Homo sapiens: one gene and its partners. The protein of the gene in region 1 interacts with the protein of each later gene in a pairwise test. Each region holds a gene or a part of one and is shown in the gene's direction. Other genes may lie near its edges. The genes, in order: ASB13, NUDT3 and HAPLN2.

What was found.
Region 2: the proteins of ASB13 (region 1) and NUDT3 interact in a two-hybrid assay, tested with the Homo sapiens proteins (2 studies listed by BioGRID and IntAct).
Region 3: the proteins of ASB13 (region 1) and HAPLN2 interact in binary tests that used the Homo sapiens proteins (3 or more experiments, as listed by UniProt).

Annotation. Positions count from the first base shown.
Region 1 is NC_000010.11:5,641,509-5,650,572, reverse strand, and holds part of ASB13 (ankyrin repeat and SOCS box protein 13), read left to right. Parts: intron 1-1,468; coding exon 1,469-1,603; intron 1,604-8,019; exon of another isoform or gene 8,020-8,100; intron 8,101-8,611; coding exon 8,612-8,803; intron 8,804-9,064. UniProt on the Homo sapiens protein: May be a substrate-recognition component of a SCF-like ECS (Elongin-Cullin-SOCS-box protein) E3 ubiquitin-protein ligase complex which mediates the ubiquitination and subsequent proteasomal degradation of target proteins.
Region 2 is NC_000006.12:34,279,179-34,284,669, reverse strand, and holds the end of NUDT3 (diphosphoinositol polyphosphate phosphohydrolase 1), read left to right. Parts: 3' UTR 1-4,991; downstream 4,992-5,491. UniProt on the Homo sapiens protein: Cleaves a beta-phosphate from the diphosphate groups in PP-InsP5 (diphosphoinositol pentakisphosphate) and [PP]2-InsP4 (bisdiphosphoinositol tetrakisphosphate), suggesting that it may play a role in signal transduction.
Region 3 is NC_000001.11:156,622,415-156,626,225, forward strand, and holds the end of HAPLN2 (hyaluronan and proteoglycan link protein 2 precursor), read left to right. Parts: intron 1-1,052; coding exon of another isoform or gene 1,053-1,076; coding exon 1,077-1,161; intron 1,162-1,392; coding exon 1,393-1,746; coding exon of another isoform or gene 1,747-1,750; exon of another isoform or gene 1,751-1,883; intron 1,884-1,936; coding exon 1,937-2,053; intron 2,054-2,186; coding exon 2,187-2,369; intron 2,370-2,686; coding exon 2,687-2,970; 3' UTR 2,971-3,311; downstream 3,312-3,811. UniProt on the Homo sapiens protein: Mediates a firm binding of versican V2 to hyaluronic acid. May play a pivotal role in the formation of the hyaluronan-associated matrix in the central nervous system (CNS) which facilitates neuronal conduction and general structural stabilization.

The DNA of each region.
Region 1 (9,064 bases):
CTTTCGAGCAGAGGTTGCAAACTGTGGCTTATATCTTGACCGGCCAGCATGGCCTTTGTCTTTGGATGCACATCTGGGGTGCAGGGTATGGGGTATGTGCCCTTCCACGGTGCTGGCAGGGCCATGGCTGCATGTGGCTCACCCCTGATTCCTGCTCGTAGGTCTTTCCATGTCTGCAGGCCATGGGACAGCTCCAGGGAGCTCTTGAAGGTTTCTGAGCAGATGTCGAGGGTCAGGAAAACAGAATTTGGGGAAGGTTCATTTAGTGGTCCTCCATGTGCAGATAGACGGAGGTGCAGTGGTGGCTGGGGTCTCCTGGAAGCAGAGGGATGAGTTGGGGACCATCGCTGAGATCAAGGTGCCCAGTGCTCAGAGTAGGCTGGTGGAGTGGGATGGTTTCATTTAGTAGGGTTGGGGAAGGAATCCATAGGATTTCGTATGAAGGGGAGGCTCAAGAGGTCAGAAATGAGTCAGGTTTGAGTCAGGAGCAAGGACCCCAGGAAAGGGAGAGGGCTCTAGAGTGGGAGACACCGGCCGGTGGCCAGCACATGGCTCTGGGGCTGGGGCTGGGTGTGAGGCTGGTGGGGAAAATTAGGGAGCTGCCAACAGTGAAGAGGTAATTGAGTGAACGGAAAGGTTGGAGCCTAGACGGAATGTGCAGGGGCGGGAGGATGGGGGGCCTGGAACCCCGCTCCAAATCCGCATTACAGACCCAGGAAGAGGAGCCACTTAAGAGGCAGGAGAGGCCGGGCGCTGTGGCTCATGCCCTTGGTAATCCCAGCACTTTGGGAGGCTGAGGTGGGCGGATCACCTGAGGTCAGGAGTTTGAGACCAGCCTGGCACATGGTGAAACCCTGTCTCTACTAAAAATACAAAAAAATTAGTCGGGCACGGTGGTGCATGCCTGTAATTCCAGCTATTTGGGAGGCTGAGGTGGGAGAATCGCTTTAACCCGGGAGATGGCGGTTGTAGTGAGCTGAGATCGCACCACTGCATTCCATCCTGGGCAACAGAATGAGACTTTGTCTAAAAAAAAAAAAGAGGCAGGAGAGGCGGCTGCCGTGGTGCACAGGAGGATGACCTGCATAAGAAAGTCTGGGGGGTTTCCTGGGAGGCTGGGCTCAGTGCTGACAGCCGCAGGTAGACACAGGGCAGGGGGGCAGCGGGGGAGTTTTCCCTGACCCATTCTAGGTGGTGCCCCATGTCTTCTGTTCTCACAGCAAGAAGCCGGCCAGGCCCGTTTCTCCCACTGCCTTGAGCCCTCCGTCCTCAGCGGGGCGCAGAGCCGTGTCCTGGCTTCCTGAGGGCCATGCGGGTCATGAACTCCTCCCTAGGTTGGGACGCAGGCCTGCCTGGCTTCCCTGCCCTGCACCAAGGATGGAGGCTGCTGCCCCTGCCGCGTCTGTGTGCTTGTTGTCTCCAGTGTCCGTATTCAAGGACATTCCCCCCCTTTTCCATTTATCTTAAGGGAGTTCCGAATGTGTGAGGCTTCTTATTGACGTCGGGGCCAATCTGGAAGCGCACGATTGCCATTTTGGGACCCCTCTGCACGTTGCCTGTGCCCGGGAGCATCTGGACTGTGTCAAAGTGCTGCTCAATGCAGGTGAGTGGGTGTTTGCCCGAGCGGGTGTTTACCTGAGTGGGTGTTTGCCCGAGCGGGTGTTTACCTGCGTGGGTGTTTGCCCAAGTGGGTGTTTGCCCGAGTGGGTGTTTACCCGAGTGGGTGTTTACCGGAGTGGATGTTTGCCCGCGTGGGTGTTTACCGGAGTGGGTGTTTGCCCGCGTGGGTGTTTACCCCAGTGGGTGTTTGCCTGAGTGGGTGTTTGCCCGTGTGGGTGTTTACCTGCGTGGGTGTTTACCCCCGGGGGTGTTTGCCCGCGTGGGTGTTTACCCGAGGGGGTGTTTGCCCGAGTGGGTGTTTGCCCGCGTGGGTGTTTACCTGCGTGGTTGTTTACCCCCGTGGGTGTTTACCCGAGGGGGTGTTTGCCTGCGTGGGTGTTTGCCTGCGTGGGTGTTTACCTGAGTGGGTGTTTACCTGAGTAGGTGTTTGCCCGCGTGGGTGTTTACCCGAGTGGGTGTTTGCCCGAGTGGGTGTTTACCTGAGTGGGTGTTTGCCTGCGTGGGTGTTTACCTGAGTGGGTGTTTGCCTGAGTGGGTGTTTACCCAAGGGGGTGTTTGCCTGAGTGGGTGTTTGCCTGCATGGGTGTTTACCCCCGTGGGTGTTGCCCACGTGGGTGTTTACCCGAGGGGGTGTTTGCCTGAGTGGGTGTTTACCTGAGTGGGTGTTTGCCCACGTGGGTGTTTACCTGAGTGGGTGTTTACCTGAGTGGGTGTTTGCCTGCGTGGGTGTTTACCTGAGTGGGTGTTTGCCTGCGTGGGTGTTTACCTGAGTGGGTGTTTACCCCCGTGAGTGTTTACCCGCGTGGTTGTTTACCTGAGTGGGTGTTTACCTGTGTGGGTGTTTACCTGAGTGGGTGTTTGCCTGCGTGGGTGTTTGCCTGCGTGGGTGTTTACCTGAGTGGGTGTTTGCCTGAGTAGGTGTTTACCTGAGTGGGTGTTTGCCTGAGTGGGTGTTTGCCTGAGTGGGTGTTTGCCTGAGTGGGTGTTTACCTGCAGAGTGTGTATTTATGGATTTATCTGAGAAGTTTGCCTGAATGGGTATATACTTGCAAGGCTGTTCACCTGAGCAGGTGTTTACTTGCACGAGCATTTACCTGAACAGGTATTTACTGTGCCTAGCAGAGAGCTGGGTAGAGGAGTCAGAGGGACCAGGGTTGGAGGCTGGCTCTCTTACTTGCCAGCTGAGACCTCGGGCCTCAGTTTACATATCTGTAACACTGGAAGAATCTATGCTGCAGGTTGCTGGGAGAACTGAGGATGTTTCCCCGGTGCCTGGTGTGTCCTAGTAGGTACTCAACAGATGCCAATGATTATTTCTAGAGATCACAGGCCACTGTCCCCACAGCTGCCTGGTGAGGTTGCTGCCTGAATCCAAGAGAGAAGGGGATGTAATGGGAAGTGGAGTTGGCAGCGTTTAGGAGAATATGGAGCATTTGGAATCCAGGCCATTGTCGGGTGTTCGAAAAGACTCAGGATTGAGATTCCCAAAGAGGGAAAAAAATCAAAACCAAAAAGACCAACCAATCGAGGATTAGGCTCAGGACCTGTCTATACCAAAAGTTTTAGCCAAAGTGACTGTTAGCACAGGGTTTTTATCAACCCAACTTAAATGTTTTGTTGAGGGAAAATTTTAGTTTCATCATCTTATCCAAATTCTGGGTGTAGTGTAGGATAAAAACAAAACTGTTTAGGATGGCTGGGCACTGTGGCTCACAGCCATAGTCTCAGCACTTTGGGAGGCTGAGGCGGGAGGATTGCTTGAGCCCGGGAGTTTCAGCCAGCCTGGGAAACATAGCAAGTCCCCTTCTCTTAACAACAAGAACAAACCTGTTTGGGAACAGGAAGATCATGAATTCCCCCTGATGACAGCCATTTGAGCTTAGTTATGTGTAGTTTTTTATTGGAGAATCTTACTCACTTTCATGTGCCACTTTTCAGTCTTTTTAGTGGAAAAGATTCGTTTTGTGTAGGAATAGTTGTTGAGGTACTTTTAATTTTTTTATACACTGTCTTAGAAGTATCTCCATTGGAAGCAGGTGTAAGCGTTTCCAGCCGAGCCGTTCCTCTGGCAGCTGGATCCGTTTCTATGAACACAGCGCAGTGCGTTCATATCAAGCCTTTATGAGCTCAGTACACACGAGTTCCATTTTTACCTTCGTTCTGTTTGGTGTGGTTGTAGGGAAAGGGATCAACTTAGTGTTTAAAGCAAACATCCTTTCTGTATCAGTTAGGACTTCATGTCAGTTGGACACCTTTGCGAGTAACAGGAAGCCACTTCCACTGGTAAACAATGGCGGGCATTTCTAGTTCAGGTGACTTCAGGGCTGAGACGCAGAGCAGGATTAGGGGCGGCTGGACCGGAGGTTCCGTGGTGTCACCCAGGCCTCAGTTTCTTTGAACGTTGCGATTCTGCTTTCCTCAGTATTGGCTTCATCCTAAGCCTCCGGCCTCCCTGAGCAAGGTCACGGGGCTGCAGTGGCTTCAGGCCTACACGCCAGACGTTTCCTGTTTTAAGCCTTCTGGAGGCTCTTTCAGCGGAGTGGAAAATCCCTTTTCACACACCCCTCCCCAGTCCCTTTGCCCAAACTTTGCCAAATTCTGATGGGCTGAAGCCTGGGTCATTAGAACTAATTACTGTGGTCAGGGGAGAGGGATTGGACTAGGCGGGACCCACGCTGGAGCTGAAGTCAGGTCTGCTCCCGCCCCCACCACATTACCAGGTGGCAGCACAGTCGGGGGTGGGGGCTGGAAAGGAAGGGGCAGCTGTGAGGCCCACTGTCGCCCTAAAGTGGGGTTCCCACAGCTCTCCCCGGGAGTTTGCATGCCCCTGGGGAGTTAGAGGTGAACGTGGCTTTCTTGGGGAAGCCTCCGCACAGTGACTGTTGGTGTTGGCTCGATGCTGTGGGTAGCATCCAGCCATCAGCTCCACGCGGGATTCCTGGTTCCCATCCTACTCTTGGGTGGTCTCCTCTAGTACCCCTTGTGAGAGCAGATGGATCATCATCTTCTTCTTAGAAACCATTTTTTCATTGCGGAAAATTTCAAACATACAGAGGAGAGAGAAACAACAGCATCCCCTACGTCCTCACAAACAGATTTTTAAAAAGTAGTGATTCTGATCTTTTGGGGTCAGGTCACAGATCCCTCGGGAAACCAAAGGAAAGCCAGGGACCGTGTCTCTAGAAAAACAGAAGAGTGGAAAGTCCCTTTTCCTGCACCCCTCCCCAGTCCCTTTGCCCAAACTTTGCCAAATTCTGATCGGCTCAAGCCTGGATCATTTGAACCAGTTACTGTGGAGAGGGGAGAGGGATTGAACCAGTCGGGGCCCACATGAGTGCAGGTGCTTTCATGTGCGGTTTGAGAGCTGAGCTGTGAGGCAGAGCCACGTTGCACCCCACGGGGGACGTGGAGACCGTTGTTCTTGTTCTTTGTAGGCAGTGAGGCGAGTCCAGGAACCAGATTGTATTTGCAAAGGAGGAGGGCTGGGGAGGGTGAAAGTCCGGTTATGATGGTGAAGTAATTTTTAATCTGATCACTGACAGTGAATGTTGAACTCTGCCAGGAGTGTTCGGAAGCGGCTCCCTGAGGACGGTCCTGCTTCCACCTTTGTTCTTAGCACTGGCCCTGGCACAATTTAAAAAATTTTTTTAAAATTGTTGTTTAATTTTTAAAAAATTTTTTAATTATAATTTTTTAAATTTAATTTTTTTTTTCAATTTCTCTTGTGGTAACAAGCACCTATTGAGCTATTTGTGTTTATGTTCCAGGATTGTGCCAGTCTTGGCGTGCTAAGGTCTTAGGCGGTCCCGTCACGTCACTGGCCACGGGTTCTCTGAATCCACTTTAATCCTATTTTGTGTTGAAAGCAGGATTTTGGTAATGAGCCTGTGTTGACCCCTTTTCTCTGAAGCACGAAGTTCAGAGCTTTTAATTCCCTGCTTGTTTCCTGGCTCCCTGTCTTTGTCTCTCTCTGTCTCTGTGTCTCTGTCTCTGCCTCAGTCTTTCTCTTGCCTCTCAGTTCAAGGTATGTTACCATCCTTGCTTCACACAAAGTTACTTTCTTTCCCTCTCCTACCCTCTTTCTCTCTTCCTTCTTTCCTCTGTATCTGTTCCCTTCTTTCTTTCTTTTTTTTCTGAGATGGAGTCTCGTTCTGTCACCCAGGCTGGAGTGCAGTGGTGTGATCTCTGCTCACTGCAGCCTCCATCTCCCTGGTTCAAGCGATTCTCATGCCTGAGCCTCCTGAGTAGCTGGGATTATAGATGTGCACCACCACGCCCAGGTAATTTTTGGATTTTTAGTAGAGACGAGGTTTCACCATATTGGCTAGGCTGGTCTTGAACTCCTGACCTCAGGTGATCTGCCCGCCTCAGGCTCTCAAAGTGCTGGGATTACAGGCATGAGCCACCGTGTCTGGCCCTGTTTTCCTCTAACGAGTACCTGTTTATGTTCTCTTTCTCACTATGGGCCTCACTCTGTCATCCAGGCTGGAGTGCAGTGGTACGATCGTGGCTTGCTGCAGCCTCAACCTCCCGGGCTCAAGTGATCCTCCTACCTCAGCCTCCAGAGTAGGTGGGACCACAGATGTGTGCCATCACGCCCCCCGGGTAATTTTTAAATTTTTGTAGAGCTAGGGTCTCACTATGTTGCGCAGGCTGGTCTCGATTTCCTGGGCCCAAGAGATCCGCTCGCCTCGAATTCCCAAAGTGCTGAGATTACAGGCGTGAGCCCTGTACCTGGCCCAAGCATATATTTTTAATGAACATAGCTGATCGAGTTTCATCTCTGACTCTCTTCTTGGCTCACTCAGTGCTATACTTTCAGGATCCATCCATGTAGCTGCCTGCACCCCTGGCCTGGTGTTTCCCTTCAATCCCTTATTCACAATTTCATTTCCTTCCTTATTCACCTTCCTTCCCTTCCACCCAATCAAATGATGCCAAACACACATTTTGAAAAGATGTACATTGGGAAGGCTGCCTCCCTGCAAGAGCCCCTGGCCAAGGCCTCGTCTGTGGAGCGTGGCAGGGAGCGTGATTTTTAGAGCTCTTTCCAGCCATGGTTTTCTCCCTGATCGTGAGAGAGTAGCTGTGCCTCCCTTGGGCCTCTTTCTCTGTTTTTCTTCTTTTGTTAAAATAGAGACCATCTCTTTCTCTCCCAATTGGCAAGAATATTGCCAGAATTAATGACATGAGAGAAAGCTACTTGAACTTTAGATTCTGTGGATGGTACAATTTGTTTTTCATTACAAGCATATGTTTAGTGTTAAAATTTACTTCGTGTTATGATTGCAACATTATACTGGAGGAAAACCCCTTATGTGAAAGAGAGGTTGAATTGTGGGGAAATATTTCTTTAATCTATTGCTTTTGAATATTATTTTTTTGTAGTACATTTCTGCCAAATTCAGGACATAGATAAGTTAGCATTTTTCCTAGTTGAGAGATCCTTTTCCTGTTCTGACTTCTGAGTTTTGGCTGCGGGAAGTGGAAAGAACTTTCTTAAATTATGTCATCACTTTGGAGGGCTGGGGCGTTCTTAGGATCCCTCCACGAATGCTGTTATGAGCATGGTTCTTATGTGCTTTTAGGGGATTAAAATATTTTAAAGCAGAAAGCGGGATTTTTCCGATGCTTTTTGAGCTAGAGGAACTAGAAAATGTAAAAGCGTTCCACCTCTCAGCTCCTCTTTTGACCCTCTGAGACTGTCGGGAAGTGATGGCATGCTAGTGTCTGATTGTTTTAAAATCCCACTTTTGATAATACTTTATGTTTGTGGTTTGAATCTATCATTTGGCGAATTATTTTACTGATGCTGGGCGATTTGCTTGGCTTCTTTAAAACACTTCTCTTTTATTTGTTTTCTCTTATAACCTCCTTTGTTACTTGAGGAACAGACTTCGAATAAAATGGCATTTTCTTTCAAAAGAATTCTGAAGCCCTGGGGGATTCCATTGTATCGGATCAGTGATGGCTGTGCCCTAAGAATGATGTGTTACAAAAATCATATTTTTATCAAAATTTTTTTTAGTGTGTTGCAAAATGCCATATGTGACCAGGTGTGGTGGCTCATGCCCGTAGCCAGGAGTTCGAGACCAACCTGGCCAACACGGCAAAACCCCGTCTCTACAAAAAATAGAAAAATTAGCCGGGCATGGTGGCACACCTGTCATCCCAGCAACTCGGGAGGCTGAGGCAGGAGAATCGCTTGAACCCTGGAGGCGGAGGTTGCAGTGAGCCGAGATCATGTCACTGCACTCCAGCCTGGGCAACAGAGTGAGACTCTGTCTCAAAAAAAAAAACCCAAAACCAGCCATATTTAGCTACTAATTCCTTGCATCTTTCTGAATGTCTGCTCTTTTTTTTAAAAAAAAATTTTTTTTTACCTTTACTTTTAATCAGCTTGATGAATGTCTGCTCTTATCGTGAGAAAGTTGAGGAGTGCAGAGCTTACTCTCTTCTCTGAATTGCCTACTGTTTTGGGTACGTTATCTGTTTTCCTTTTGTAAAAGAATATGCATTGTTAAGGAACATTTATTCTTTCATTCAACCAGTATTTCTGGAGCCTCCGTCCTGGGCCCGCAAGAGGAAGAAGCAGTGTGTGTCTGTGCTGGAGGCCAGGCGGGAGTGCTTGAGTGGCTCTGGTTTGAGCTTCCGGAAATCTCAGGACCCCTGAAGGCAGATTGATAGGGCATTAGAACGGTTGTTTAACTCAGGACATTTTTCGTTTTATTTTTCTTCTTTTCGGTTCTATTTCTAGTTATTTCTTTATTATTGCTGCCTACCTTTATCTCTCATGAGTGGGGACAGTAAGTAGTTCCTGCTTTTGGATGTTGAAAAACATTTTTGAAAGCTACGGTAGAGTCTGTCCTGATTTTGTCTTCTGGGTGGGGATTGCTTCTGCCACCGTGCTGTGTGACGAAACGGACCTGATTGTCCCCCTGACTTCAAGTTCTCTTCTTGGTGAAATCTCTTCTGCACTCTTGACCTCCAGGGGCCAACGTGAATGCGGCAAAGCTTCATGAGACTGCCCTTCACCACGCGGCCAAGGTCAAGAATGTTGACCTCATCGAGATGCTTATCGAGTTTGGCGGCAACATCTACGCCCGGGACAACCGCGGGAAGAAGCCGTCTGACTACACGTGGAGCAGCAGCGCTCCCGCCAAGTGCTTCGAGTACTACGAAAGTGAGACACCCCACCGAGCGCACCCCATCCCCTCCAGCCTTCAGCCTGGACCCCTGACGTGCCGGCTCCCTGTGGGCTTCCGCGGAGAGCTGGGCTGTTAGTCCTGGCTCCTGTCCTCTGCGCTAGGACAGACCCTTAAGCACTTTGCGGGGGCTGTTTGTGCTGTTGCCCCAGCTCTCCCTGGGTTCCCTGTGGCCCGTGGCGTGGAGCAGCAGAAGCTGTGGCCGACACCTGCCCGGGCACCAGACCTGTGCCTCCTGT
Region 2 (5,491 bases), on another chromosome or scaffold:
AGAAATAATAGGTATTTGTTAGACCTGAGTGTACATTTCACATGTTATCCTTCACATATTTCTCATTTTCATCTAGTACTTTCTTAATGCCTTTGTTGGAGTCCGCATCCTCATCTTTAAAAAAAAAAAAAAAAAAACAGCTTAGCCTAAGCCACATTCACTTTTTTTAGTTCACAAAAAGGATTTAATAGCCACAATGTGATTTTTGCCACAACTGTGTGATTTTAATATTCTCTAATATCAAGGGCGGATTTAGAATTGCAGGAAATACCTGGAGAAATCACAGTGGAATGAATTTTTGCTTTAAGAGAAATGAGAGTTGGCTGTCTCTGTAATTGATAATACAGCTTCATCCTAGTCCCATCTGCATTTCAGAAAATAACCCTCATCTTTACAAAACACAGGACACTTGTGGGACAGTTAACTCAAGCAGCTATGGGGAGGGAGGAGATTATTGAATGGTGATTAAATAATGCAAATGGCTCTTCTGTTTCTTAAAGACTGTGGAAGAGGTCAGACTGCCCAGTTGAGGTGGGCAGTTCATACTGCTCAGTTGAGGTGGCAGTCATTTATTCTGAGTCCTGTTGGATAGAGCCTATCTCCTCAAGGCTACAGAGGCTTCCAGGATATGGAGCTGTGCATGTTAATGGCTCAGCCTTGCCTCCATCAGGGCACCTGCCTAACTTGGAGCAAGTGGGAGAGCACCCTAGAGTCATCCTCTGTGCTGTTTCGTGAGTTTTGCAGCGGAGACTTCACCATCCGGAGGAGCTGTGTTTCTGTGTCACTTGGGATATCACCTAAAAATGAAACATTTGATATTTTAAGGTATAAAAAAAAAGTAAATTGGGGAACATTGGCTGCAGTCCCTAAAAGATACTGTTGTCTGTGCATCAGGTTAGCTTGAGGTCACCACAGGTCCTGGGAGCCCAGAGAGTTTAGGCATACTCTCCTTTGGAGGCCAGCAGCCTTTCACAAACCCTGCCTCTAAAAGGGCGGTTTCACATTTGACCATGTTTTTGCATTAGCCTCAGAAACTCTTGTCTTTAGCTGATAACCTTTGAGGGATGTGAGAAGCCTAGTTGGAGCATCTGAGAAAATGATACCTCTCACCTTCAAATTAATCAAATAGTTTGTCCTTCTAGTCCCCTTATAAATTAATAAATGGAGGGCTGGTCATGGTGGCTCACGCCTGTAATCCCAGCACTTTGGGAGGCCGAGGCGGGTGGATCACAAGGTCAGGAGTTCAAGACCAGCCTGACCAATATGGTGAAACCCCATCTCTACTAAAAATACAAAAATTAGCCAGGTGTAGTGGCACGCTCCTGTAGTCCCAGCTACTCGGGAGGCTGAGGCAGGAGAATCGCTTGAACCCAGGAGGTGGATGTTGCAGTGAGCCGAGATCCCGCCACTGCACTGCAGCCTAGGCGACAGAGCAAGACTCCGTCTCAAAAAAAAAAAAAAAAAAAAGAAAAGGGAAGGGAATCCCATTTTGTGATGATTTGGGCACACTACTTGAGCTGAGGCTAGCAGTCACATGATTTTGGCTGTCTCTGACCTGAAGCTTTTGAAGTAAGGTTATGTCTCTTCCCTGAAGCTTTGTTTATAGTGGTAATTTGGTGAGTTTGAGCTTTGAGCTTGTCTTAGAAAATAAGACTGTCCACCTGGGGAGGGGAGCTTATAGGGAACCCGTGTTAACTCAGAATGCTGAAGAAAGTGCTTTTAGCCAACAAAAGTAAGATTACTATCTAGAAGGTGGAAAGAAGTCATTGCTTCTGTTCCTCCAGCAGTCAGTTGACTCTAGGTTTCCTTTGGTTTATATCCCCAGTTCTTAATACTAAAACTTATTTGACTTCCTATCAGGAAGCACACAAAAAAAGCGTCATTTAAAACCCTGGATATAGGCTTTAAAGGATACAAAAACAGCAGCATTGTCGTTTTGCCAGGTTCATCACCATTTTGATGTGCTACCCATCCTTCCACCCTCCCTTTCCTGCCCCCAAGCCTCCCAGCCAGGCCAGATGTGAAGATTCTATTAATCACTGTTTCAGAGAACATTAATTCTTGTATAGAATAATTATCTACTAAATTGCTTATTATCTGTGACTACCTTGCAGAGAACATCTCAACAGTGCAGTAAAATAGCTCTCCTAGACTTGAGCTTCCAGCCAGGCATTTAGATCACTCTTAAGCCTTTGTGGAATTCTGAGGAAAAAAAGCAAGATGCCTCAATGCCAATGCTGGGCCATAAGATTCTACTCCCCTCCCTGTAGGGTGGGGCGCGTGGCTCAGCTTTGGAAAATCATTTTGCCAGTAATATTGCCTGTGAATCCCTTTAAGAAGTCGTCCTGATCTGAGCCTGTCTTTCTGAGCACTTTGGTGCTGAATTGAAAATGGTAAGCTAAAGCAGTGACAGATCCACGTAGCCTCTTTAACCTCTTTATTATCTTGCCAAAAAAAAAGTTTCTCAGGTTAAACCTTTGTCTTTAACCTCCCTTTGTTGTGGAGAAAATGTGTCACTAATCAGTGGTCCAAGGGATATCTAGCTTTGGTTACTCAGTTCCTGCAGCATAACAGATATGACTTATGCCAGGGAAGGTAGAGGCTGATTATGGAGACACCCAGGAACAGGAATAAGAAGGGATAGGTCTGCTCCACGTAGAACCTCCCCAGATCGGAAGTTAAGTCTTGGAGAGTTTCCAAAGTGCTGAAGTAAAAAGGAGACTTGGAGGGCCTTTGCTTAATGAGCAAGAGGCTTGTGTCCTCCCAAGAACATGAGGGAGTTCAGAAGGGAGCTATAGCTCACAGACAGAAACCTGCCCGCTCACCCCATCCCTCGTGACTGGGAGCATGTTTGCTCAGAATTTTCTAAGAGGACTCTCCCTTCAAAAATCCAATTTGCTCCCAGAATGTTGTTTAGCCTCTGAGAATCTCACTCTTTCATTTCCATCTGTGAATGGACATAGATGTGTTGCTCAGGGATCAGAAACATCAGAGTCCAGGGCCCAGTGGCATGGTGTTGCATTAGTAGTTAGAAAAGTAATTGGTCAGCTCTACTGTAAAAGAAATAAGTATGTAGTACAGTTTTGTAAATGTCAGGTCTGTTCTATTGTTTTGTGATCTGAAGACTGTCAAACTGGTTGATAATCAAAGAAAAGGTTGGTGGTTAGAATAAGTAAAATTTCAGTTAGAAAGATATAGCTTACCAGTTTTCCATGTGCTTAAGGAAGTCAAGAATATTTCAGGTTGTTGAGAACTGTTGTAAAATGGAATTGAAGCTAGTGTCTCTCACCTTCTTAGGTGTATCAGAGAGAGGAAGTGGAAGGCCAGTAGTAGCATCTTCATACTTACTTTTGCCAGCCCAGCCTCCATTTCAAAGACTTTGTCTTCCATCCTATCCAATGACATGGTCAGGGATGGGCTCTGAGGAGGCAGTGAGGCCCCACCTTGGTTTGCTCCACTGTGGTGTGTAGTCTCCAAACAGCTTAAGGGTTTTTAAGTTTTCTCACGATTACCTCCACTCCACTCATCTACTATCAGCATCAGAAAGGTTAACATCCCTGGGACCATTCTACTTATAAAAGAGATGAACTAGTGTGCTTTCTCCCCTTTTCCAGGTGTGCCATCCATATACAATCTCCTCTTGGCCAAGTTCAACAAATGTTTCCAGGGAACCCCGTGGGTTGAGGCAAAGTAGCCAAGATGTATTGAGTTAAGTTTTTCTAGAGGACAAAAGTATTTCTTGTCCCTTTTCCCTCATGCTCATATGTTTTAGCTGAGGCGTAAATGGCCAAGTTGAGTAATATCTGTGGAACTGAGACAGAGAGCCAGGGACCCATGTACCCAGGGACCAGTCCCCTGGGGAATCACACAGTGGCTCAGACTAGACTGCTCTATCCCACCAGAACTCTGCTGCTGTTCATTTCCATCAGGACCACCCAGGAAAGCAAATAAGTTAGCCTTCTCATCATTAGGTCACCTAATCTCTTGGGTTGCAGGATGAGAGCATATATAGATCTCCTGTTTAGAGAGTGTGTTCATAATTGTAGAAAGGGATAGAAAATGGAATAACCAAGAGGCTGTGTCATTTTTTAAGAGGATGGCAAGGATGACCTCAAATGAGCTCAACAAAACTGGGAATCCAAGGAATGGTGCTTGTAGGGAAAGAGAGGTCAGTTGTGGTCCTTAAACCTCTTGGCACCTTGTGCGGGTTATAAAACAAGGAGCTGGAGTAAAATTGCCCTTACCCCCAATCCAAATGCTGTCCAGGATTTAGGAGCTACCCAACCTGTGGTTATATGGTGTTGGTTTCCATTTTTTGTTTGTTTGCTTGTTTCCAAAATAGCCTTGCTTGGTACTGCATGGAAAGTTCAAGCTTTTCTTCTTGCCCGCTCAGGGCTGGCCTCTTCCCCGTGTCTTCACAGCGTCCCTAAGGAAGATTTTTGCAGCACTCTCTGGAGCTGAGGGGAGTGAAATTTGGTCCAGAGAAGGCGGAAGGAAATAGTTTTCCTGTTTCCTTTTCTCGAGGTGGATGTCCTCAGGCTTCCTTCACACCTCCTTCTCATGGGTGCGGCTGGCAGTACAGTCAGGCTGTGGAGGAGGGCTGAGAAGAAAGGGGCACTGGTCCAGCCCCAGGTTTGGTCTGAGACAGGTACACAGCAGATACCATCCCACCTTCCTCTCTAAAGAACAGGCCAGCCACACATATAACCCTTTCCCTACTTTACTAATGTATCCCTTATGTGGTACCAGCAATGGAGGACAGGCAGACTTACCCCCTGCCATCTAGAGAGAATGTTGTTATTACCCGTAAAACTTGACCACCCCCATATCCCACTCCTTTTTGTAAAAACAAATGCTTAAACCTGTGAGCCTGCCGTTCCTTTCTATGTGTTAATCAGTTTCCTTCCATTTGAGCTGTGTGGGAGGGAAGGGCATTGAAATTGTAGGTTGTAATCTTGTGCCAACCAATAAAAACCAGTATTTCACACACATCCCTTTTAGTGTCTGGTCTCTTCTTTCCAGAGGCTTCCCTTGAGTCCTTCATGTCAGCCTTTTGGTTTCCCCCACTCCTCTGCTAGATTCTTGGGAATTGCCCTAGAGGTCAAGGGTGACCCCATGGAAGATTTGGTGTGCAGGGCATTCAGGTGAGAAACGCAGTGGAGAAAGCCAGAGGCTATTAAAATCAGCATGTTGTTGTATCTTGCCGTCCTTGCTACCAGGTGCCGAGACAGAGCCCTGGTTAGACGGTCAGTGCCCACTGCTGAGGAGAGGGCCTGTACCCCTTAGCCAGGGAGGCTTTCTAGGGGACCCAAAGGAGTTGGAAGGGGTAAGAGGTGAGCCACATCCAGAATAAGGAAGCATCACAAGAAGTTGCTTTCTTCTGTGTGGGGTGGAATCAGGAAGGGCGGAGCCATTTTTGAAGCTGTGAGTGGTAGGGCTTGCAGGCCGAGAATGGGTGGGCATCATCAGTGGGAGAGCAGCATTAAGTGAG
Region 3 (3,811 bases), on another chromosome or scaffold:
CTGCACTCCAGTCTGGGCGAGAGAGTAAAACCCTGTCTCAAAAAAAAAAAGGTCCGCAGTCCAGCAGATCACAGTGCACTACAGTGTGGCAAACTGGGGGTGGGTAAAGGTTTCCCAAAGGAGGTGAGGCCTGTGCGACCAATGCAGGCACAAAGGAAAGGAAATGAATGCAAACTTGGACTGTGTGGGAAACTGCCAGAAATCCAGCATGTCAGGGGAACAGTGCAGAGGCCAAAGTGGTTAAGAGGCGAGGCGGGGACCATGCTGGAGGTGCAGGGAGCAACTGGATTATAGACAGCCTTGGAAGCTGTGGTTATGAGATTGGATTTTATCCTCAGGGCAACTGGGAGTCACTTTCAAGCAGGAGAGTGACAAGGCCAGGCACGGTGGCTCACGCCTGCTGTAATCCCAGCACCAGCCTTGTCAACACAGCATGACCTTGTCTCTACTAAAAACTTAAAAAGAAACAATTAGCTGGGTGTGGTGGCACATGTCTGTAGTTCCAGCTACTCAGGAGGCTGAAATGGGAGGATCACCTGGAGCTGGAAGTTAGGGGCTGCAGTGAGCCATGATCATGCCACGGGACTCCAGCCTGGACCATGGAGCAACACTCTGTCTCAAAAAAATAAATAAATAAATAAATAAATAAATAAATAAATAAATAAAATAAAAAAGCAGGAGAGTGATAAGATCATTTTGACTCTGGCTTCAAGATGGAGAATGGGTGTTGGGAGAGGATAGAGACGAGCTGGCAGTCCAGATGGCAAGCTTGGGAAGTAGCACTTGTGATGAGGGGGACAGGTAGAGAAGATGCTAAATTAGTACCTGCAGGCTGAGAGGATGTGACAGAGGAAGAGAGGGAGAGGAAGGGGATTGCTACTGCCTTCTTCCCCTCATCACCTTCATTTTGTCACCAACCCCTTTTCTCTGCCCCAGTGGCTTCCAGCTGGACAGTCCCTTCTAGGATCTCTGATGGGAGTTCACCCACAACCCTGCTCTTCCCCACCCTTTTGCCCCAGTCCTAAGAACTGCCCACTCTTTGTGCCCTGCAGACGGTGCCGGGCTGACCCCCCATCATGCCAGGCTGGCTCACCCTCCCCACACTCTGCCGCTTCCTTCTTTGGGCCTTCACCATCTTCCACAAAGCCCAAGGAGACCCAGGTAAGACCCCAGCCCAGGCCAGAATCTGGGGGAGGCTTGGGGAGACTGCAAGGGTGGGGAAAGGGGAAAGGGCAGTTGTTGCAGGTACCCAGGGACTGAAAGTCATTGCTGAGAAGGCAATGGAGGAGAGGGTTGGGGGGCTCTGGAGAAAGCATTTGGGGAGCAGGGTCTGATGGGCACTTGGGGCAGTGAGGATTGGGGGTTCCTGCCACTGTGGCCCCCTCTGCCCAGCATCCCACCCGGGCCCCCACTACCTCCTGCCCCCCATCCACGAGGTCATTCACTCTCATCGTGGGGCCACGGCCACGCTGCCCTGCGTCCTGGGCACCACGCCTCCCAGCTACAAGGTGCGCTGGAGCAAGGTGGAGCCTGGGGAGCTCCGGGAAACGCTGATCCTCATCACCAACGGACTGCACGCCCGGGGGTATGGGCCCCTGGGAGGGCGCGCCAGGATGCGGAGGGGGCATCGACTAGACGCCTCCCTGGTCATCGCGGGCGTGCGCCTGGAGGACGAGGGCCGGTACCGCTGCGAGCTCATCAACGGCATCGAGGACGAGAGCGTGGCGCTGACCTTGAGCTTGGAGGGTGAGGCCCTTCCGCTCCCGCCCCATTCCTGTGTAGCAGCGGGTCCGCCTCGCCTGGGTCTCCCAGGGCTCCTTCCCAGTATCTCCTCCGCACCCCTGGGGACCCCAGCTCCCTCTCCCAGGCCGCGCCGCCCTTCCTCCCCCTCCGCTCCCATCCGCTGGCCCTCCCCAGGATCCCCGCCACCCCCTAGGTGTGGTGTTTCCGTACCAACCCAGCCGGGGCCGGTACCAGTTCAATTACTACGAGGCGAAGCAGGCGTGCGAGGAGCAGGACGGACGCCTGGCCACCTACTCCCAGCTCTACCAGGGTGAGCGGCCGAACCCAGCACTTCCCAAGCCCCGCGGAGCTGTCTCAGGGGCCCGAGAGAGGGCGCCAGGCGAGCTCAGTCTGGCTCCTGCCTATGACGCCTCTTATCCCCGACCTCCGCCGTCTCCCGCCAGCTTGGACCGAGGGTCTGGACTGGTGTAACGCGGGCTGGCTGCTCGAGGGCTCCGTGCGCTACCCTGTGCTCACCGCACGCGCCCCGTGCGGCGGCCGAGGCCGGCCCGGGATCCGCAGCTACGGACCCCGCGACCGGATGCGCGACCGCTACGACGCCTTCTGCTTCACCTCCGCGCTGGCGGGTGAGGCGCGGGACGAAGGCAGGGTCTTGGGGAGGGGTCTGAAAAATGTGGGGGACGAGGAGTGGACCTCAGCTTGAGATCAGGGCAGGGTCTCCGGGTCCCTCCAAGGCACCGCCCCCCCATCAGCCCGCCCGCCCGCCCAGGCTCCAGCTCACCTCTCCAAACCCTCCCTGCACTTTTGCCTCGATCCCCCAACTCCTCTTACCCAAGCTCGATCCAGCACCTCTGCGGTCCCGCACCCCAACTCCGCCTCCTGGGTGTCAGCCGCCCCTCTCCGCCCACCCTGCCCTCGGTCGGTGACCCGCTGTGGTCCCCAGGCCAAGTGTTCTTCGTGCCCGGGCGGCTGACGCTGTCTGAAGCCCACGCGGCGTGCCGGCGACGCGGCGCCGTGGTGGCCAAGGTTGGGCACCTCTACGCCGCCTGGAAGTTTTCGGGGCTAGACCAGTGCGACGGCGGCTGGCTGGCTGACGGCAGTGTGCGCTTCCCAATCACCACGCCGAGGCCGCGCTGCGGGGGGCTCCCGGATCCCGGAGTGCGCAGTTTCGGCTTCCCCAGGCCCCAACAGGCAGCCTATGGGACCTACTGCTACGCCGAGAATTAGGCGCCCACCGTGTCCCCTCCAGCGCGCGCGAAGAAGCTTGGGAGTCGTGGCGGGGGTCTCTCGCCACCCCTTTCCGGAGAGCCTCCCCTCCCTCCAGACCCGGAGCGGCCTCTCCAGACCTGCCTTCCCAGCCGGGGGCTGCGGGCCTCGGACCCCGGCTGGCCCGGCGGCGGGGAGGGGAGGCGGGGGCGCCTCCGGCGGCGAGATGCAGAGGTGACCCTCGGACCCGCTGCCGTTCGCGAACCCTAGCAGAGGACTCAGCCACCGCCGGGGGGAGGGTGAGGCGGCCGGGGGCATTAACTGACCTCTGAGTACAGCAATAAAATAACCTGGGGATCTTTTGTGTTGGGTGGAGCTGTAAGAGCTGCGAGGCGTGGAGGGGTGTGTGTGTGTGTGTGTGCACGCTCATGTCGGGGCTGATGACCCGGGATCCTGCGTGCCCACTGAGCACCTAAGACAGGGTAAGGGGCAGGGCTGTTGCTGTTAAGGGATGGGTCAGCGGAAGAGCGGGAGTGCGGCCGGAGGGCACCAATAGGCCAAGGGAGAGAGAGAAGTGGAGACGTAGTGGGCGCCTGGCCCAGGACCCACGCAGAACCCAGCATGTTGTTGCGCCAGGCGCCACGCGGGGGCGCCGCACACTCACCTAAGATTAGTTCAAATCTGCCAGGGGCGCCCCATGCCACCAGGCCCACCCTATGTGCCCCAGATAACAAATATAAGACAACTTAAACATATTTCAAAATGTGCAGGCTGCAGACCTCCCTGAAGCGTTTGCGGGGACTACTGTTAAAGATAGGAAAGTCATATTGTTGCTAGAATTGACAGGAAATTAACCTTGCGT